Homo sapiens: one gene and its partners. The protein of the gene in region 1 purifies or fractionates together with the protein of each later gene. This does not show direct contact. Each region holds a gene or a part of one and is shown in the gene's direction. Other genes may lie near its edges.

Region 1 (7,698 bases):
AGACCCTGTCCTCTGAAAACAACAAAAAAATAGTGACAGTAATTTTTGTCAATATTGATACCAAAAACAAAAAACAAGCCAGAAACAAAGAAAGAAAGAAAAAAGGCAGAGGAGCAGGAGGGGAAAAAAAAAAAAAAAAAAAAAAAAGAAAAACCAGAGGGAGAAATAAAAGCTCCTCCTTATGCGGTGGTGCACGCCTTTAATCCCAGCAGTTTGGGAGGCCAAGGTGGGCGGATCACCTGAGGTCAGGAGTTTGAGACCAGCCTGGCCAACATGGTAAAACCCCATCTCCACTAAAAATACAAAAATTAGGCTGGACGCGGTGGCTCAAGCCTGCAATCCCAACACTTTGGGAGGCTGAGGCAGGCAGATCACTTGAGGTCAGGAGTTTGAGACCAGCCTGGCCAACATGGTGAAACCTAGTCTCTACTAAAAATACAAAAAAATTAGCCGGGAGTGGTGGCGGGTGCCTGTAATCCCAGGTACTTGGGAGGCTGAGGCAGGAGAATCACTTGAGCCTGGAAGGCGGAGGTTGCGTTAGGCCAAGATCGCGCCACTGCACTCCAGCCTGGGCGACAGAGCGAGACTTCCCTTCCCCTCTCCACCAAAAAAAAAAAAATACAAAAATTAGCCGGGTGTGGTGGTACATGCCTGTAGTCCCAGCTACTTGGGAGGCTGAGGGAGGAGAATTGTTTGAACCTGGGAGGCGGAGGTTGCAATGAGCGGAGATCACACCACTGCACTCCAGCCTGGGCGACGGAGCAAGACCCTCTCTCAAAAAAAAAAAAGAAAAAAAGAATATCACTTAAGTCTGGGTATAGTGGTTCACACCTGTAATCCCAGCACTTAGGGAGGCAGAGGCAGGTGGATCACTTGAGGCCAAGAGTTTCAGACCAGCCTGGCCAACATGGTGAAAACCCGTGTCTACTAAAAATACAAATGGTGTGCGTCTGTAGTCCCAGCTACTTGGGAGGCTGAGGTGGGAAAATCACTTGAACCTGGGAAGTGGAGGTTACAGTGAGCTGAGATCACACCATTGCACTCCAGCCTCGGCAACAGAGCAAGATGCCCATCTCAAAAATGATAGGATTATAAAATCACTGTTCTACAACCAGTGTGGTAATAGTTGATTTAGGCAAGAATCATCAATGGATGCCAACCCATTGAGATATTGTCAGGGAAGAGATATTCACACAGTTTCAAAGTATCACCCCACACAAGTAACTTTGTTGTTTTGTTTTGAAGTGAAATTCACATTAAATGAAAGAAACCACTTTAAAGAGAACAATTCAGTGGCTTTTAGTCTATTAGCAATGTTGTGCCACCACCACCTCTATCTAGCACCAAAACATCTTCATCACACCAAAATAAAACTTGGTACCCATTAAGCAGTTGCTCCCTCCTTCTCCCACCCCCCAACTCCTGGCAACCACCAATCTGCTTTCTGTAGATTTGCCTATTCTGGATATCTCATATAAATGGAATCATACAATATGTGACATTTTGTGTCTGGCTGCTTTTATTTAGCATAATGTTTTTGATGTTCATCCACATTGTAGCATGTGTCAGTACTAAATTCTTTTTATGGCCAAAAAAATATTCCAGTGTATGTATATACCGCAATTTGTTTATCCATTCATTTATGGATGACCATTTAGGTTTTTTCCACCTTTTGGCTGTGATAGCGCTGCTATGAACACTCATGTACAAAGATTTGTTTGAGTATCTGTTTTCAGTCCTTGTGCATATATACCTAGGAGTGGAATTGCTGTTAATTCTATAATTAGCTTTCTGAGAAGCCAACAGACTGTTTCCATAATAACTGCACCATTTTACATTCCCACCAGAAATGTAGGAGGGTTTCAATGTTTCCAACATATGAGGGTTCCAAAATCCCCACCAACACTTTTTTTCCATTAACATTTTTTTTTTGAGATGGGGTCTCACTCTGTTGCCCAGGCTGGAGTGCAGTGGTGCGATCATAGTTCACTGCAGCCGCCAACTCCTGGACTCAGATGATCCTCCAGCCTCAGCCTCCAAAATGCTGAGATTACACTTGTGAGACATCACGTTTGGCCTTATTTTCCATTACAAAAATTTTTAGCCGGGCGCAGTGGCTCATGCCTGTAATCCCAGCACTTTGGGAAGCCAAGGAAGGTGGATCACCTGAGGTTGGGAGTTCGATACCATCCTGACCAACATGGAGAAACCCCAGATCTACTAAAAATACAAAATTAGCCAGGCGTGGTAGCACATGCCTGTAATCCCAGCTACTCGGAGGGTTGAGGCAGGAGAATCACTTGAACCTGGGAGGCAGAGGTTGCGAAGAGCTGAGATCGTGCCATTGCACTCCAGCCTGGGCAACAAGAGCGAAATTCCATCTCAATAAATAAATAAATAAATAAATAAATAAATAAATAAATTTTATAGTCATCCTAGTAGGTGTGAAGTAGTAGCTCATTATAGTTTTGCTTTGTATTTTCCTAACAACTAATGATGTTAATTCTCTTGTCACATGCTAGTTTGGTCATTTGCATGTCTTTGGAGAAATGTCCATTCAAATCCTTTGCTCATTTTTCATACAGACTTCTTAAATACAGAGGGAAAAGGTACCTGTATCTTGGAGAAATAATTAACTGTAACATCACCAGTAATGGAACAAACTGACATCATATTTTGATGCACTAAGATGAATACAACATCATCTATAGTATAGCCAACAAAATTGTTTAACTTGAATCTAATCATAGGGAAACAGACAAATCCAAAACAGGGAACATTCTGCAAAATGGTGGAACTGGATTCTTCAAAAAAGTCAATGTTATAAACAACAAAACAAAACAAAACAAAAAAAGGCTGGGTGCCGAGGCTCAGGCCTGTAATCCTAGCACTTTGGGAGGTTGAGGTGGGTGGATGACCCGAGGTCAGGAGTTCGAGACCAGCCTGGCCAATAGGGTGAAACCCTGTCTCTACTAAAAAAAAAAAAAAAAAAAAAAAAACAAAAACAAAAATTAACTAGATGTGGTGGTGTATGCCTGTAATCCCAGCTACTCGGGAGACTGAGGCAGGAGAATGGCTTGGACCCGGGAGGCTGAGGTTGCAGTGAGCTGAGATTGCGCCACTGCACTCCAGCCTGGGTGATAGAGTGAGACTCCATTTCAAAATAAATAAATAAATAGAAAGAAAACCAAAACACAAAACCAAGAATGATTCTAGACTAAAGGTGTTTAAAAAGACATGACAATTAAATGCAACGGATGATCCTTAATGGTAGACTAATTGGGAAAAAAAGAAAATCAGCGACAAGGGATATTACTGGGATATTTTGCAAAATTGAATATATATGGCCTGTATGTTACAGATGATTACATTGTATTAGTATGAAAGTTTCTTGGAGTGATCATGGAATTCTGATTATGTGGGAGATTATCTTTATTCTTAGTAGATATGTACTGAAATATTTAGGGATAAAGGGTAACAGTGTCTACAAAAACTCAAGTGATTCAGCAAAATAAACCATACACACAGACACATAGATAGCAAATGTGGCAGAATGTTAAAAATTGGTGAATATGGGTTAATTTGGCTGTTAATTGTATTTTCCTTGTAACTTTTCTATAGGGTTTGATATTTTTTTGAATATAAAAAGTTAAGGACTCTTCAAAATCCAAGCAGAGTTTCCCGTTCTGATTTATCATCCTTAGTGTAAGCCACCTTGTCAAAGATACAGTTGTGTGACCAATGAGGGAGTTAATAGTCAGAATGCGTATCTTTCAAAAACTATTGTAATTATTTACATAAATAAGAGAACATTGCAGTTATCTTTTTGTGTCACTATCAACTTGATTCACATCTTTTGTAGGCAGCCTGATAAGGTGGTTTGTCGACGGCCAGGCCTGAATTTCGATCCTGGCTGGTTAAACTTTTTAACCTCGTTGGGACTCAGTTTCCTCATTGTAGGATGCAGAAAATAACTACTTGGTGTGATTGTTGTTTTGAATTGTTATACACCTGGTGTTTACGGAAGCGAGTTTCAATTCATGTGCAAAACCTTTGTCCTACCTTGAATGCTATCTGTATCTTTTCCTTCATTAAACTCATGCAATCCTGGAGGGCACTTAGAGGTGGGAGAGAAAATGACTTCTCCAAGGTCACACCGCTAATCGCGGACCCAGGTTTCCCAGCTTTTGGTCGTGTGCCCTTTCCACGCCTGCCGGAGAGGAGGAAGCGGCGCTCATGGGGTTGCAAGGATGTAGAGGAGCAAAGGGAGAGAAGAGGCCGCGGGAAGAGAGGTGGTGCGAGACCCGCGGAGGCGCCGGCCAAGGACGGGCGCATGGAGCAGCGGGCGGCGCGACCGGCCGGGGTGCGGAGGGGAGAGGCCGCGGCGGGGAGGGAGGGTCCCGCGGGTCCGGTGCCCGGGAGAGGCGGGCGGCCTGGGCCAGCCGCAGGATCGCAGGAGGCGGAGGCCCGGGCCGCGGGCTGGGGTGGGGGAGGCCGAGGGCCAGCGCGGCCATGGGCGGCGGCCACTTCTGCACAGGTGGGTGGGGCGGGGGCGCGGGGCGCTGGGCGCGCGGCGCTGGGGTCCCGACCCCCGGGGCCGGCGGGTGGGGGCGGGGCGGGGGCGGGGCCGGACGGGGGCGGGTCTTGCTGGGTCCCTGCTGGAGCGGCGGCGGCGGCGGCGGCGCAGGCGCGGTTCTCGTCTCCTCCCGGCCGGCGGAGCGAGTGGAGGCTGCAGCCCAGCTCGTCTCGGCGCCCGCGTCGCCGTCGCGAAGCCCCCCGCCCCGCTTCCGCCGCGTCGGAATGAGCTCCCGGAAAGGTGAGTGGCCCGCGGCGCGCCCTCTCCCCGCCACGCGGCCAGCCCGGGCGGGCGGCCCGACCGTTAATGTGTGTCTTCTCTTCCCCAGTGCTGGCCATTCAGGCCCGAAAGCGGAGGCCGAAAAGAGAGAAACATCCGAAAAAGTGAGTCCACGCTGCGCCTGTCCCCGTTCCCCACCCCCGCCCCGTCGGGGGCGCCCGCGGCCGCGCAGGGGAAAGTTGTCCGGGTCCCCGGGCCGGCGGGCGGGCTGGTCCCCCGGGACGCTGGCGCTCGGCTCCTGCCCCCGGCGGGCGGCCCGGGGGGAGGGGCGGCGGCGGGGGAGGGGCGCGCGGGCCGCGGCCGGTTCCCTAGCATCACGGAGCCTCGACCCCGCGACCTCCCGCCCCGGGTCGCCACCGGCCGGCGGGCGGGAGGCCGGCGGAAAGGCGCCGGGCAGGGCGTGCGCACCCGTCCCTTGCCCGCGAGCTGGCCCGGGGGTCGCGGCCCTTTCCGGAAGGGGCCCCGGCGTCTGCCGCTGGGCTCCGGCCCGCCCGCTGCGGGAGTGCAGCGGCTGCGTTGCTCCCACCTGAGCCGCGGGCCGAGGAGGCGGAGGGGCCGAGTGTGCGGGAGGGCGTGTGTCTCGCCTCCCCTTCCTCCCCGGCCCCCGCCTGTCGGCCTTTCTGCTGAGAACCTAAGCTGGTTGTCAAGTGGTTTGCCTCGGGCGTGTTCCTGGCGCGAGTTCAGCCCCGAGACCTGTGCGTTTCGGCTCTCGGGTTTGGATTCGAAACTTTCCGCTCGGGTTGAGCGTGACTTGGGTGCGCTGCGGGCGCCGGGGTCGCGGGCTGCGCAGGGCGGTGGGCGTGTGCGCGGGAGCCGGTCGGAGTGGAAAACGCGCCCGTGGCGGCCACCTCCAGCCTGGCCGCTCACCCGAGCAGGGGGGCCGCTGCCCAAGAACCCTTTCCTGGAGAGCTGCTCCGAGACCGCACAGCGCCGCCGCGTCTTCTCCTTTTCCACTCCTCTCTCCTAATTTTTTTGATTTACCAGCGTTCGACATCGTTATCTCTTCCTCTAGATTAATTGCTTCGCTCTTTTGAGCAAGAATACTCTGTGTGGCATCTTTGGTACTGTGGGGAACGAGAATCCAGCATTATCTTTAATAAAATCCAGAAACATTTTTGGTTGTTTCCTTTGAGGGGTACGTCGCAGCACGCTCACTTTTTTCCCCTTCTCGTTGGCCTTGGTCCTTCAGTTTCACAAAATGTGGATAGTGACTTAAAAATACCTTAAAAAAAAAAAAAAAAGAAAAAACCATTAGAGTAAGGGGAAAGCACTTCCTAAAGAGTTGAAGAACTAATTGGTCGGTAAAAATTGGATATTGAATTCATAAGATGTTAAAATGGACTGGATTTTTGGTAGTTTTGGTTGCTTTTAAAAAAATTAGTGCTAGCTTTCAAGTGAATTACAACCTTAAATTTGAGATTTCCTTTGGTGAACCATGGAAGTTTACCCAGTGGTAAGGAGAACTGTAATGTTTAGGATTCTGAATAAGTACTGTGTTTTAATCACAGCTCTTAATTCAAAGCATTGATTTAATTCCACGTAGTCTGTTATACTCAGAAACATAAAAACAAGTGGAAAAAGTATGACCCCAGTGTCGGAGATGGCTATGTGTGCATGTATATACAAATAGACACGTATATGTGCATGTTACCTTTACGTACATGTGGAAAAACAGTTCTAATTAAGTCAATATGTGTCTTGTATTTGCATATATTAGAGTATGATTTTCCTAATGGTCGAGGGCCTTTTTGGTGGGCCGCAGTTTGGATTTATGTGGTATGTTGATGAAGACTTAGTGAATAGCCACAGTACTCAGCTTTTCCTCTCACAGATTAATCTGCCAGTTTCTCCCACTGTGTATTGTGTATATGTGATAGAATTTGAGGGGGAAAATAACACACCAGCTAATGATGAAACGAACTGGCTCTAGTCTGTAAGGTAACGGGACCAGCCCAATTATATAACTGATTGAGGCATTGCCATTTTTCACTTAACTCTTTGAATCAAGTCATAATTTTATTTAATAATTTTTTTGAGGCAGAGTTTCGCTCTTGTCGCTCAGGCTGGAGTGCAATGGCCCAATCTTGGCTCACTGCAACCTCCGCCTCCCAGGTTCAAGGGATTCTCCTGCCTCAGCCTCCTGAGTAGCTGGGATTACAGGCACCCGCCACCAAGCCTAGCTATTTTTTTTGTATTTTTTAGTAGAGACGGGGTTTCACCATGTTGGCCGGGCTGGTCTACAACTCCTGACTTCAGGTGATTCACCGGCCTCGGCCTCCCACACAGCTGGGATTACAGGTGTGAGCCACCGTGCCCGACCTGAATCAAGATATTATTTAAAAGAACTGTTTGATGTTATTTATTTATTCATGTCTTCAATAGGTATTTACATGTCTGTCTTCGGAGATGGTGTTAGAGGTTGTTTTTTTTTTTTTTTTGAGACCGAGTCTTGCTCTGTTGCCCAGGCTGGAGGGCAGTGGCGCGATCTCGGCTCACTGCAAGCTCCGCCTCCCGAATTCACGCCATTCTCCTGCCTCAGCCTCCTGAGTAGCTGGGACTACAGGCGCCCGCCACCACGCCCGGCTAATATTTTGTATTTTTAGTAGAGGTGGGGTTTCACCGTGTTAGCCAGGATGGTGTCGATCTCCTGACCTCGTGATTCGCCCGCCTCGGCCTCCTAAAGTGCTGGGATTACAGGCGTGAGCCACCAAGCCCGGCCGGTGATAGAGTTTTGAACAAGACAAAGCTCCTTGCAAAGCTAACCTTGGGAGGTTTGGGGAAAACCACAAAGAGGGTGACAAGATAATTTCAGATAGGGCTAAGGGATAGGAAGAAAATGAAGA
Region 2 (7,411 bases), on another chromosome or scaffold:
CCACCATGCCCGGCCTCCTTTTTTTTGTTGAGATGCAGTCTTGCTCTGTCGCCCGGGCTGGAGTACAGTGGTGCGATCTTGGCTCACTGCCACCTCCACCTCCTGGGTTCAAGCAATTCTCCTGCTTCAGCCTCCCGAGTAGCTAGAATTACAGGTGTGTGCCACCATTTCCGGCTAATTTTTATATTTTTGGTAGAGACAGGGTTTTGCCATGTTGGCCAGGCTAGTCTCAAACTCCTGGCCTCAGGTGATCTGCCTGCCTTGGCCTCCCAAAGTGCTGGGATTATAGGCATGAGCCACCGTGCCCGGCCCATGCTTATTATTCCTATTCCAAGGCTGGTAAGAAGGCAAGGTTCGGTTTGGGTGTTGGGGGGGTGCGGACTCAGAGCTCCTGGTTCCTAGTTTAGGGTACCCTCCTGATGAAAGATGATACCACATAAGTATGATTAAAAGCATGGAGGCCGGGTGCAGCAGCTCACGCCTGTAATCCCAGCACTTTGGGAGGCTGAAGCAGGTGGATCACCTGAGGTCAGGAGTTCGAGACCAGCCTGGCCAACAAGACGACAGCCCGTCTCTACTAAAAATACAAAAAATTAGCCAGGCGTGGTGGTGGGCACCTGTAATCCCAGCTACTCAGGAGGCCGAGGCAGAAGAATCGCTTGAACCCGGGAGGCAGAGGTTGCAGTGAGCTGAGATCATGCCACTGCACTCCAGTCTGGGCAATAAGAGCGAAACTCCATCTCTAAATAAATAAATAAATAAATAAGCATGGAGCCAGGCTGGGTGCGGTGGCTAACGCCTGTAATTCCAGCACTTTGGGTGGTCGAGACAAGAAGATCGCTTGGGCCCAAGAATTCAAGACCCAGCCTGGGCAACACAGCAAGACTCTATATCTACAAAAAAATATATATGTACAAAAAACTAGCCGGGCATGGTGGCGCACATCTGTGGTCCCAGCTATTTTGGAGGCTGAGATGGGAGGATCACTTGAGCCTGGGAGGTTGGGGCTGCAGTGAGCTGTGATCCAGCTACTGCATTCCATCCTGGGCAACAGAGCAAGACCCTGTCCCAAAAACAAACAAACAAACAAACAGCTTGGAGCCCTGCCGCCAGAGTTCAAATTGGACTCTTCCTCTTTCTGCACTATAGCTAAGGGGCATTATAGCTAAGGGGCTTCACTTCTATGAGCCTCAGTTTTCTCACCAGGAAAATGAGACAATAAAAGTTTCTACCTCATGGGGTTGTTGAGAGGATTCAGTAAATTAATATTTAAACACAACAGCGCCTGACATAGGGTAAGGCATTCAGTAAAAGGTGGCTGTAATTTGCATTAAATTTGCCTCATCTCAGTGGGGGCATTTAGGGAAGGTTATAAATGTGTCCGGAGGCCAGGCCCAGTGGCTCACGCCTGTAATCCCACCACTTTGGGAGGCTGAGGCAGGTGGATCACCTGAGGTTGGGAGTTCGAGACCAGCCTGGCCAACATGACAAACCCTGTCTCTACTAAAATTACAAAAATTAGCTGGGCGTGGTGGTGGGCGCCAGTTCACTCCAGCCTGGATGAAAGAGGGAAACTCCATTAAAAAAAAAAAGTGTCTGGAAAGCTTGGAGTTTCAATGTGAGTCCTGGCAAGTCGCTTCTCCCTCTTTTCTTCAGCCAGGCAATCACTAAACCTCAGCCTCAGGGCCCCAGCCTAGGTCTGGCACTCTCCTTTCCCCTCCCACCTGGGTCCCTGGATGTCCCAGTTTCCTCAAGGCTCCTAAGTACCACTTCCACAGGCAGCCTCCTTTTCTGCACAGAGCCTCTCCAGGGCTCCCCCGTGCCCTCAGGAAAGTCTCAGTCCCTTTGCACGACCCGCTCTGTCCTGCGTGGGCTGGCTCTGCCGCTTTCACAGCCCCATGTTTGCCACTTCCCCCGGCAAGTTAAGGACATATTTGCAGTTCCTTGAATAGAACATGTCCTCATTTCACTCCAGGCCCCTGCGCAAGCTGTATACTCTCATCACACAGCATTTGCACGACTTGCTCAACAGCACTCAGGGTTCCCCTTCTCCAAGAAGCTCCCCCTGACTCCCCAGCCTGGGTCAGACACCCCTCTGGGCTTTGTCATGACAGCCCTGACCACTCTGGGTTGTCACTGTCTGGAAAGGTGGAGGGATCTGTCTCTCTCACTAGACTGGGCATTTGCTCTTTTTTTTTTTTTTTTTTTTTTTTGAGACAGAGTCTTGCTCTGTCTTCCAGGCTGGAGTGCAGTGGCGCAATTTTGGCTCACTGCAACCTCTGCCTCCAGGGTTCAAGCGATTCTCCCGCCTCAGCCTCCCGAGTAGCTGGGACTACAGTTGCATGCCACCACACCTGGCTAATTTTTGTATTTTTAATAGAGATGCGGTTTCACCATATTGGTCAGGCAGGTCTCCAACTCCTGACCTCAGGTGATCCACCCGCCTCGGCCTCCCAAAGTGCTGGGATTACATGCATGAGCCAAAGCACCCGGACTGGACTGGGCACTTGTGAGGACAGCTTTCTTCATTGCTGGAGGCACACCACCATGGAAGAGATCTAGGTGGGGGACCTAAGTAGTCAGCCTGTTTGATCTTGAGGACACGGGAACCCCCCCCCCACCCCAAGAGATCTGTGAAGTGTCTAGGGCAGAGCCTGGGTGGTGGGTGGGGCATGGAGACCCTACCGGTCCTTGTGTAGTTTCAGAAGCCTCTTCACATCTTCTCTGCCCTTGGGGACCGGGCCGGCCTTATCAAAGGCCTCCTTCAGGAGCTGGCTCTTCTCCAGGCCGAAGACATGACGGGGAGCAGGCCCTGTGGCAGCGGGTGGAGGAGGCAGTGGGAGCGGTGGGGGAACAGGGGTCTGCTGACTCCAGGGAGGGGATGGTAAAGCTGAAAAGTCCAGGGGACTTGGGGGTAGAGGAGGAGATGGAATGCTGCTGGCTTGGGGTACAGGGGTTTTTGGAGGAGAAATTGGTGGTTTTAGGGGAGGAGAGCATGGAGAAGTCATTTTGGGGTCTACAGGAGGTGTTGAGAGGTTCAGAAAGCGGGGAGGGAAGGATCCTCCAACGGAGAACGGTCTCAGGGATGGAGATTTTAAAGGTTTAAGAGCTGAGTTCCAGAATCTGGGGACTGAGCAGTGGGTGTGAAAGGACCAGGGCTAATATTTGAAACCACGGGAGCAGGAATTGCGAGGCTGACTCAAGTCATAAGGCACCTGACGGTTAACAGGGTGGGGTCCTTAAATCCGGAACCGGATCTGTGGTACCGGTTGGGTTACCTCGGGAGTCTTAGGTGGAGAGTTAGTAGGAGTTAACTCATTCTTTGGGGCTGGATGTGGAAACTCATGAGTGAGTTTGGGATATGAAGGCTCAGATCTAGAGTGAGGTGCCTTAAGGATGCGACTTAGGGACCCAGGGCTAAAGATTCGGAGAACTTAGGTTCAGTACCCCCTCACATCCCAGGCCCGAGTTCGGAACCTTTGAGCTGACCTTTGAGTCAGAGGTCAAGAGGTCAAAAAGGACACCTGGCAGGGAAAATGGCCTAGTTGTGGAGAAGGTCCTGGAACCAGAGCAACAAAAAACGTCTGTGGGTTGGAGAAGACTCAGAGATCAGAGGCCGGTGGGCGCCGCGATAACCACTGGAAAAAGGAAAGGAGTCAGGAAGTAAAGTGCACCTCCCACTCCCGGAAAATGGCGGCCCCCGCACACTGCCTTTCCCATATCACGTGGTATTACACGCAACAGTTCCCGCCCATTTTGCGATCACGTGACAGAAAACGCAGCTCTGGCGGGGGTAAGAGGCGGGACTCCAAAAAGGATTGCCTCCGGAAGACACCGCAGCGCGAGACGCGTACAGACTCGTGACCTTCACTGATTGGTCCGTAGACCCGGGCGCCACGGAAGGAGGTGGGCTTTCAGGGAGTGGGGCGGGGTTTTTCTACCTAGGCGGGAACCCAAATATCGTTTTGATTGGCAACAGCTGAGCCCAGAAACGAGACTTGCTCTGATTGGTCAAGCTACTGCGTTTCCGCGCGGCGATTGGCTGGCAGAAAGGCAGAGGCGGGGCCAGGAGAGAAAGCTTTGTGGTTTGGTCTCAGGGAAGTAGCAGGCGCCGGTTGAGAGAACTACGGCCCTGTCGGAAGGTAACCTCCGGTGCAAACGACCATCGGCGGCAGGCGAGCGGTACGCTTGGCGTCCGGGCCTTCCTGGGCCCGTCTGAGGAAACTTGCTGCTCGAGGCCAGGCTGCCTAGGACCTGTCCCTTTTTTCTATACTGGCTCCCACATCCGGGTTTTTTCTCCGGGACGGCCCTTCGGATGCTTGGGCCAATGGGAATCGCCATTTAGGGTGCTCCGCCCACCGGGTCGCGTAGAGCATCCTGGAAGTCGTAGTAAATCTCTCGAGAGTTCTCTCCGCACGCGGGCTGGAGAAGCGGGTCCTACGCACGCTTTGTTGTCGCGCTTTGCCTCCGTCCTTGCCCCTACTCCCGCCTTACCTGACTTCCTTTTCGGAGGAAGATCCTTGAGCAGCCGACGTTGGGACAAAGGATTTGGAGAAACCCAGGGCTAAAGTCACGTTTTTCCTCCTTTAAGACTTACCTCAACACTTCACTCCATGGCAGTTCCCGAGACCCGCCCTAACCACACTATTTATATCAACAACCTCAATGAGAAGATCAAGAAGGATGGTGAGTTCTCGGGATAGTCCGGAGTCCAGACTGTCCCGCACGGGCTGGCCCCTCTTCCGTCCCCTGCACCCGCCTCTCTTTCTAAGTGTTTGTCCAGCCAAACTTCGAGTTAACTCCTTGGCCTTTACACAAACTACTTCCTGTCTTCAACACTCCATTAGTTCATCTTACACTCTGCCCTTTAACGTGGTCACTGCTGCTCATCTTACAAGGTTTGAGGTCACAGGACCCTTCCTCCAGGAAGCCTTGCCTTGTCCCTTCACGTGGCTGCCGCTGACTTGCCGTACGCTGAGACCATCTCCCATCAAGCCCTGATTCCTCTGAGCTGTCGTGGGGCTCTCTCTCCTCCCAGTGGCCTTTGAACTCCGTGAGGGCAAGGACTGGGGCTTTCTTGGTCACCGGCTTTTTCAGTGATCAGCCCACAATGAACATGTACCATAATGGTGGCTAACGCTCTGTATCATGGGCTGGTCTGTGTGCTTTCATATAAATCTTGATAACATTTAATTCTCACAACAATCTTGTAGGAAGAAGGCTATTGTTATTCCCATTCGTCAACTAAGAAACTGGGGCCGGGCGCGGTGGCTCACCCCTGTAATCAATCCCAGCACTTTGGGAGGCCGAGGCGGGCGGATCACCTGAGGTCGGGAGTTCGAGACCAGCCTGACCGACATGGAGAAACCCTTTCTCTACTGAAAATACAAAATTAGCCGGGCATGGTGGCGCATGCCTATAATCCCAGCTACTCGGGAGGCTGAGGCAGGAGAATTGCTTGAACCCAGGAGACGGAGGTTGCAGTGAGCCGAGATTGCGCCATTGAACTACAGCCTGGGCAACAAGAGCGAAACTCCGTCTCAAAAAAAAAAGAAAGAAAAGAAAAAGAAACTGAGACAGGGGTGATGTGACTTGCCCAGGGTCACATAGCAAGTAAAGTGGTTGAGGCCACCCGTATAGAATTCTGCTTAGGAACCCAATTTTTGGCCGGGCGTGGTGGTTCAGGCCTGTAAGCCCAACACTTTGGGAGGCTGAGGCAGGAGGATCACTGAAACACAGGAGTTCAAGATCAGCCTAGGCGACAAAGCCAGACCTTTTCTCTACAAAAAAAAAAAAAAAAAAAAAAAAGGCTGGGCGTGGGTGGGGTGCGTCTGTGGTCCCAGCTACTTGGGAGGCTGAAGTGGGAGGATCGCTTGAGCTAGAGAGGTTGAGGCTGCAGTGAGCTATGATTGCACCACTGCACTGCTGCCTGGGCTGAGCAAGAACCTATCTGAAAAAAGGAAAAAAAAAAAGAACTCAATTATTGAAATCGGAAAGACTCTCTCACATTCTCAAGTAAATTATCACCTTTATTGAACCTCATTTTCCAGATCTAAAAACTGAGCAAAATCATAATACCTTTTTTGCATGGATGTTGGGGGAGATTAAATTAGCTAAACCTTGCAGTATTTCTTTTTTATGGTAACTGGCAGCTAGTAAAGGGCTGGATAAATGTTAGCTCTTATCACTTCAAGAAAATTATCGGGAGAACCGAAGGAGCTTGTTGGGATTCAGTTTGAGGTTACCAGTGAAGTTGCTGTTGAAGAAAGCAAAACCAGCAGCCGGGCACTGGCTCACGCCTGTAATCTCAGCACTTTGGGAGGCTGAGGTGGGCAGATCATTTGAGGTCAGGAGTTCAAGACCAGTCTGGCCAAGATGGTGAAACCCCGTCTCTACTGAAAATACAAAAATCAGCTGGATGTGGCGGTGCGCACCTACAGTCCCAGCTACTCGGGAGGCTGAGCAGGAGAATCACTTGAACCCTGGGAAGCAGAGGTCGCAGTGAGCTGAGACCGCACCACTGTACTCCAGCCTGGGTGATAGAGACTGTCTCAAAAAAAAAAAATCAGGAGTGTAAATTTTGCATATGTTTTTTTTTTTTTTTTTTTTTTTTTTTTTTGAGGCAGAGTTTCACTCTGTCACCCAGGCTGGAGTGCAGTGGCACGATCTTGGCTCACTACAACCTCTGCCTCCCAGGTTCAAGCGATTCTCCTGCCTCAGCCTCCCGAGTAGCTGGAATTACAGGCACCCGCCACCACGCCTGGCTAATTTTTATATTTTTAGTAGAGACGGGGTTTCACCATGTTGGCCAGGCTTTTCTCGAACTCCTGACCTTAGGTGATCCGCCCACCTCGGCCTCCCAAAGTGCTGGGATTACAGGTGTGAGCCACCACACCCGGCCTGCATATGTTTTTAGAGTGTGGTGCCCAACCATTATCGGGCAGTGCTGGGGACACATTGGTGACATAGAACCCTGGTTTTTTGTTTTTAAATCTTATTTTATTTATTTATTTATTTTTGAGACGGAGTCTTCCTCTGTCGCCCAGGCTGGAGTGCAGTGGCACCATCTCTGCTCACTGCAAGCTCTGCCTTGCCTCCTGGGTTCACGCCATTCTCCTGCCTCAGCCTCCCGAGTAGCTGGGACTACAGGCGCCCACCAGCACACCCGGCTAATTTTTTGTATATTTAGTAGAGAAGGGGTTTAACCATGTTAGCCAGGATGGTGTTGATTTCCTGACCTCGTGATCTGCCCACCTTGGCCTCCAAAAGTGCTGGGATTACAGGCGTCAGCCCCAGCGCCCGGCGTTTTTTTTTTTTTTTTGAGATGAGACGGAGTGTCGCTCTGTTGCCCAGGCTGGAATGCAGTGGTGCGATCTCAGCTCACTGCAACCTCCGCCTCCCGAATTCAAGT
Region 3 (7,065 bases), on another chromosome or scaffold:
TCACCATGTTAGCCAGGATGGTCTCCATCTCCTGACCTCATGATCCGCATATCTCGGCCTCCCAAAGTGCTGGGATTACAGGCATTAGCCACTGTGCCCAGCCTATCTTTATTAACATAAAGTACAGATATGGTTGACAGCATACCATTAATAACAAATAATAACTATTACTCCCCACTTTAAAACATGATTACCGGTATTTGAAATCTTTTCAGAGCAGGCAGTGCCTGCGTTTCCTGGGGCAACCAACACTTGTTTGACATGATGAGACTGTGCAAGTTTCCAGGCCAGCGTATGTTCCCTTCCTCCACTGCCAATTATAAGTACTCGGGCTGCCATTGTTCTGTCTGTAAAGCAGAAATTCCAAAGGAAAATGAAACCTGCAGAAAGAAAACCACAGTTTATATCTTAGGATGCACATTTTAGAAACCCAGGGACGGGCACAGTGGCTCATGCCTGTACCCCCAGCATTTTGGGAGGCCGAGGCAGGTGGATCACTTGAGGTCAGGAGTTTGAGACCAGCCTTGGCCAACATGGCAAAACCTCATCTCTACTAAAATACAAAAATTAGCCAGGCATGGTGGCGGGTGCCTGTAATCCCAGGTACTCAGGAGGCCAAGGCAGGAGAATTGCTTGAACCTGGTAGGAGGAGATCGCAGTGAGCCAGGATCACGTCACTACACTCTAGCCTGGGAAACAGAGCAAGACCATCTCAAAAAAAAAAAAGAAATCCAGATTTGTAAATATAATTTAAGTAATCATTTGTACTCATACAAATGACATTTTCATCCAATGATTCATTTTTGAAAAACTGGGATTCATAATTTGAGAAATATGACTGTCGTCATAAGCATAAGGGAGGTATTTCAAAAAGAAGGCAGGCTGGCCTAGAGAGCTAGGTTAAGGAGTCAAACGATGACTCTCAGCTCCTTATGTGATAATCTCCCTTCTCTGGGCTTCACTTCAAAAAGATTTAATAATCATCATGCCTTAGTTATGAAATGAATCTTGTTTTAGACTCAAAATGTATTATAAAATATCAATTTTTAAACCTTGAAATCTTACAGATAATTAGGTTATCATAAATTAAAGGATATACTGAAAACTGGGGTAAGCAAACTTTACACAAAAAGGGCCACATAGTTCTGTCAAAACTACTCGACTCGGCCACCTTAGCAGGAAAGCAACCAAAGATAATACGAAGATGAATCAATGTGCCAATGTCCAGAAAAATTTAATGGACCCATAAACAGGCAGTGGGTCAGAGATCACTGTTGCCTATCAGTACTTTAAGTAGCAGGAAACCATCAAAGGTTTGTAACAAATAAACGTGACTCGCTTTCAATAAAACTTTATGTACGGATACTATAATTTGAATTTCATAAAATTTTCACATGTCACAAAAACCTCATTTATTTCCTGTTCTTTTTCTCAATCATTCATATTTGGTGAGCTGTACAAAAGCAGGCAGCAGAAGGATTTGGTATGTGGGCCATAGTTTGCTGACTCCTAATTCAAATAGCGCAATATGCTAGAATATTGGTAGAGAAGGCAAAAATCAAATTCCAACTCATTTCACTTTAGTTCTGGCACCTGAGACTTAGAAGGATGGATACAACAGCAGTGTAACCTAGGAGATTAACTGAAATGACATTTATAAATAAGTACAATCTGGCACTCAGCAGTAGTAAATGTTAACTTGTTACATTTACTTACCACAAGACAAACTGGTAACAGGAAAAAGAAAATTGAAAACTTATTTTGATGATGTTGGGATTACATATTTTAAGAAAAATGTAAGCTGACAATATACAAAACTAACATTTTTTTGAGCACTTAACCTTGGGCAGGGTACTATTTAAAATGCTTGTCATGAAAGAATCCTATGAGGGAGATACTATTACTATCACCAATTTGCAGATAAGACAAGGAGGCCCAGATAGGTAAATAACTTGCTGGAGGTCACACAGGTAAGAGGGGGTGGAGCCTAACAGAAGCAATTTTGCTTCAGATTCTCTCAACAAGTGAAACGATGATCATTGAAAATTTGAGAAAGGAAAAAAAAAAACCCTGTTAAATTACAGTCTCGGAAGGAACAGCTACTTTAGTGTAACGGGAAAACACATTTTACTTGCCATGTGTATCTGAAATAAACAGATTTTTTATTTTATTTATTTATTTATTTGTTTAGACAGTCTCTCTCTGTCGCCCAGGCTGGAGGGCAGTGGTGTGATCTCAGCTCACTACAACCTCCGCCTCCCGGGTTCAAGCGATTCTCTTGCCTCACAGCCTCCCAAGTAGCTGGGATTACGGGCGTGCGCCGCCACGCCAGGCGAATTTTTGTATTTTTAGTAGCGACGGGGTTTCACTACGTTGGCCAGGCTGGTCTCGAACTCCTGACCTCCAATGGTCAACCCACCTTGGCCTCCCAAGTGCTGGGATTACATCACATCCGGCCAGAAATAAACAGATCTTTAAATCTAGAGCAAATGTTACATCTTTAGTTTGAATATAGCAGTAGTGTGGGAAAATTCTGTTTACTCTAGTGGATCACTGAAAATAGCCTTACTACCCAGTGGTGAGGACGCCTGGGCTCCTGAGTCTCACACAGCGCCTTGGCCTGGGTAGAGACGCTGCCCCATACTAGCAGGAAGACCTTGGGGGACTTCACTAACCTTGGGCCTCATTCCTCAGAATGGGTAACATAAGCAGAATAAGACAGGCAAATAAAGCCGTATCAGAGGATATGGAGAATAAAGTAGAAACCAACTACAAAATTAACCAAGTAATCTGCCAGAGACAACGGGTGCATAAAGAGAAAGTACACCAATTTAGGGTTATGTCCTAAAAATGTATAAAGACACAAAAAGGCCTTGACATCTTAGAAAACAGGAAAAGTAAAAGAGCAAATAGAAACCAGCTAACAGTAGCAAGTGAAAAGCACATGGCCAACCCCCACCCACCGCATTTACAAACAACAGGAAAATTTCTACAAATCAGTTTCTATGGTTTCACTCAGTTCGCGATCTTAAATCCCCAAACCAAAGCCTAAGCGCGCTCCGTGTAAAAGCGGAGGGGGTTTACGCACCGACACCGGGTGGCCACCTGGTTCCCGCTTGCCCGCTCGCCGGAAGTCGGCCCACCGGGACCGGCGCGGGACCAGCGCGGCACCGCCCCTCACTGCCCCGCCCTACGACGGCTTCCCTGCCCCATTGGTCCGCGCGGCCCTGGGTCTCCGCGGCGAGAATCTAGTCTGATTCCCTCCCGCCCTGGGCGCTGCCTGACTGCTCCCCAGCCGAGACACCCAAGCCTTAGCACGTTTATAATGTGACAGTGGTACGGGGTGCCACGCAGTGTTTCCAGGAGCGCCGGGGGGGAGCGCCAAAATGCTAAACCCATTCTTAGCCAATTGTGCGCCGCTCACGAGTCAGAGCTGAGCAGCTACCGCGGAAAAATCTCGTGACACGCCTGACTCCTGATGAGACTAAAATGCACCGGGCTTTGAATGCCGGTCGCTTAGGACATCCGGCCTATTGCTAAAAAAAAAAATGAGGCTGGTTATAGAACGCACTGGGGAAGACACAGGGCAACAGCGAGTTCCTCCTCTCACATGCCAGTGGGGGCGGGGGCTGAAAAATTCTCTCCCGGATGCATATCCCTGTCGAAACTGAACTTGGCGCCACCTGAGAGCGCCTGAAAGCCGTGTGTTAAACACCGGGTTGCCCTTCTTGCTCTTCTTCCTCTTCGCCTTTAATCTCAGGCACTTAGCAAGCCTGTTAAGGCTCCCAAACACTGCTGGGGACTGACAACTTATGCGGACACGGTCGCCTCAAGAGAGACGGCTCCTGTAATGGCGCCTGCGTCAGACACTAACATGGCGGACATAGTCGTGCGCGGCGCAAACGTCAGCACCTCTACCCCAGCCGCTCAGAAACAGCAGAGGAGAGCAGGGCCGTGCTCACTGATTGGTCCCTCGGTGGAGCGGGCCGGACCGGGCATTCCCTTTGGAGCCAATCAGGAAGGCGAGAGACCGAATTGGCCCGTGCGCCTCCTCCCGAGGCATGCTGGGAGCCTGGAGGACTAGCGAGGAGGAGTTGAGAGAACGGAGCGGACGCCATGGCGACCAACATCGAGCAGATTTTTAGGTCTTTCGTGGTCAGTAAATTCCGGGAAATTCAACAGGAGCTTTCCAGGTAAACGCCTCCCAGATTCTTCTGCTCCCAACGGACCGTTAGGCCCTCACCTAGCCTTCTTTGGCACCTTTCTTCGGAGACGCAGTCGTTCCCCGGCTCAGGCCCCGCTAGGGCCCCGCCTGGGCCTGGGATCCATTTTCCGGGCCCCCCCCAACCGCCCCCCCAGCCGCTCCCTTCCTTTTCCCTCGAGGAACTTCGCCTTTTCCGAGGTAACCCAAGACTCCCTGTTTCAGAACCGAGTTAAGATGTTCACCCTTCTCCCCTGTTTGGGTCCCCCCTGCCGTTTAGCTACTCGTAGGCCCGGTTGTCCGCCAGGGACGGGCCTAGTTCCTTCCTCAGCTCCTCCTCCGCCGCCGCGTATCCCCTCCCCCTCTCGCCTCCGCGGATTTTGCCGGCCGGTGCCTATGACCGGAAAGGGTCTCTAACGGCCGTTTCTTGGTTAATCTTAAATCCTCTTTATTATTGCGAGCTTCAGACCGCTTGGGGGTCTGGATCTATTAATAAGATTATTCGGGGCCTAGTGTCCTGTAGTATCTGTCAGCCGTTCTGATAGTTAAATGTTTCAATTAAAACGAACTCAAACTGATGCACTTGCTAGTTTGTTAAAATACTCGAGATAAAGATGGAAGGGGACTTTGAAATGGTTGCGATTAATTACAGCAAGTGAAAGTGGACTTTGTGTGTAGGTCTATTATTTTCTTGCTACCCCTGCCCCAGTTGACACGCTATTTTTGTCATTGCTGGTAGACTTTACATAATTTGCGCTTGGCTTCACAAAATTTGAAGGCGAAGAGATTGTTAAAGAAATGGTTGTTTACTTAGGAAAATAGTGTGTCATGTTCAGCGGTTGTCTCTCGATATTTGCTTTTGTATAAGATACTCATTTCTTTAAAGTACAGAAGTAGGAAAGAGATCTTGAAACGTAAGTGTTCCGAGTTCAAGTGTTTTTAATTGTATTTTAAAAGTTGAGAGCAAGAGCAGTACGTGAATTTGAAAATGGGCCGAAAACCAGTTGTAAGTGCCCAAAGTAATACAGGATTATTAGGGCAATGATGTATTATTGCTAGAATTATCACTTTTGCAGAATGTGTTGTTTTTTAAGTGGAAATAGATCCACTCACATTGCTTTTTAAATTTTTGTGATATTGCTAGTAGTGTTTTGGATGAGAAGAGACCCGAGCTAAGAGAATATAATTTTCCTGACAAATCTCTGGCTGCAATAAGTAGTTGTTTGCTTAGTTTAACGAGGTGTGTTTTTGTAGCTTTTAAAAGCTAGTCTTTCCTTTAGAAAATGAGCGTTTTATTATAATTTAGAAGACATGAAAAAGGAGAAAAGAAAAAACTCACGTTATTGATATTCTCATGTCATTTCATTTCCCCCCCCATGTATTGTGTGATATGTGATCATCTTGTTTTGTATTGATCATTTTTCCAGCTAATACGTTGTGAACAGGTTTATCCCTCTCAGTCTCAGTCTTTTGGACTTCTTCATGGCTGCATAGAATCCCATTGTAGGAATATACTGTTGCATATTTAGGTGGTTTGAAATTTTCATTGCTTTTCAGTAAATGCGGTTAACGATTGCTGGCTTTAAGATGAAATCATTACTTCCTTGTAGATTAACTTTTAAAACCATAATTACTTTTCTGATTTTCAAATTTGTCATAATTATGTATAAATGCTTAGGAAAATTGTAAAATAAAGTGCTACAGAAGGAATATCTAAAAATAATATTAGACGAAGCAGTTTATTACTAGAGGAATATGCAGCTTCTCTTCAACACATAATGCGTTATCAGTCTGCAAACAAGTTTTTGATTATTTGCCATTTCAGTGAGCTGTTTTTTTTCTCATCTGCTTTTATGTAAATTAGAGTAATGAGGCTGACATTTAGATAGTTAAAACAAGTTATCGAACTTCTGTTATAGATGGTGTGTAAGAATATGGCCTCTGGTTTGAGTACCAGCTTCACCTCTTAGTAGCTGTGTGACCTTCAGCTAAGTTTCTTCATTTATAAAAGAATAATAGTGGTGATCTCAGAGTTTTGTTAGGATTAAATGAGTTAATGTAGAACAGTATGACACTAGTAGTCAATAAATGATAATTATTATAACTATAATTATACAATTCATTGTATTAGAAAGCCAGATGTTCCTTAATAATAATTAGGTAACTACTGAATTTTTTTTGGTTTTTGACCATTCAGACTTTTATCAGGTAGTGGAGCATAATTGATGTGTTTTCATTTAGCTAAAATTGAAGTTAAAATCAAACTGTTGCTGAAAGTATTTGATTTTTCAAAATTTTGCAAATTCACACAAAAATAGTAAAAATTACTGGGCGAATGATATGTTCTTACCTATTTAAAAATTTCTCTGGCCCTGTGAATGGAACATGTGTTAAGCCATCTATGCTTTTACTGTTGGTATAAATGCCACTTGTTTTATGTGAGTTTTATAAACCAGAGTTCTTGATAATTGTGTAAAAATTACATAAATTATTTTCCTTTTTAAGTTCAGTGGCATTTCAGTAGCAATGTAAGCCTGGACAGAGGTTACAGGTTACCCTTTTTATTCAGTGTGCCTGTGGCTAACTTTTGTGTTCCTTGATACTATTGATGGTGATTGTGATTTATGCACAGCTGTGGCTTTAATGTAGCCATGGTTTCTACCATAATGTTAGGCCACATGTTTTTCTTTTGATTTGTGACCGGGCTCTTATTAATTTTTCTCCCCTGAAAGAAATATGTGGGTATCCCAAAAGCCTAAAGTTAGATTTCTGAAATTATTTTGTTTAACAAAGAGTGTACTTAGAAACCTGTTTTCTTAATTTTCATAGTTCTGAAAACTTTAATTGTATAAAAATGAAATGTC

What was found. Proteins that work in one complex are often made in the same cells at the same time.
Region 2: the proteins of SRPK2 (region 1) and SNRPA purify together in Homo sapiens (affinity purification with mass spectrometry; 4 studies listed by BioGRID and IntAct, with this or other methods). This does not show direct contact.
Region 3: the proteins of SRPK2 (region 1) and SON purify together in Homo sapiens (affinity purification with mass spectrometry; 4 studies listed by BioGRID and IntAct, with this or other methods). This does not show direct contact.

Annotation. Positions count from the first base shown.
Region 1 is NC_000007.14:105,385,909-105,393,606, reverse strand, and holds the start of SRPK2 (SRSF protein kinase 2), read left to right. Parts: upstream 1-4,685; 5' UTR 4,686-4,800; coding exon 4,801-4,816; intron 4,817-4,904; coding exon 4,905-4,959; intron 4,960-7,698. UniProt on the Homo sapiens protein: Serine/arginine-rich protein-specific kinase which specifically phosphorylates its substrates at serine residues located in regions rich in arginine/serine dipeptides, known as RS domains and is involved in the phosphorylation of SR splicing factors and the regulation of splicing.
Region 2 is NC_000019.10:40,746,796-40,754,206, forward strand, and holds the start of SNRPA (U1 small nuclear ribonucleoprotein A), read left to right. Parts: upstream 1-4,407; 5' UTR 4,408-4,613; coding exon 4,614-4,686; intron 4,687-7,411. Other genes in the region: ACTMAP (actin maturation protease), read right to left, coding at 2,686-3,008. UniProt on the Homo sapiens protein: Component of the spliceosomal U1 snRNP, which is essential for recognition of the pre-mRNA 5' splice-site and the subsequent assembly of the spliceosome. U1 snRNP is the first snRNP to interact with pre-mRNA.
Region 3 is NC_000021.9:33,538,977-33,546,041, forward strand, and holds the start of SON (protein SON), read left to right. Parts: upstream 1-4,061; 5' UTR 4,062-4,116; coding exon 4,117-4,193; intron 4,194-7,065. Other genes in the region: GART (trifunctional purine biosynthetic protein adenosine-3), read right to left, coding at 195-339. UniProt on the Homo sapiens protein: RNA-binding protein that acts as a mRNA splicing cofactor by promoting efficient splicing of transcripts that possess weak splice sites.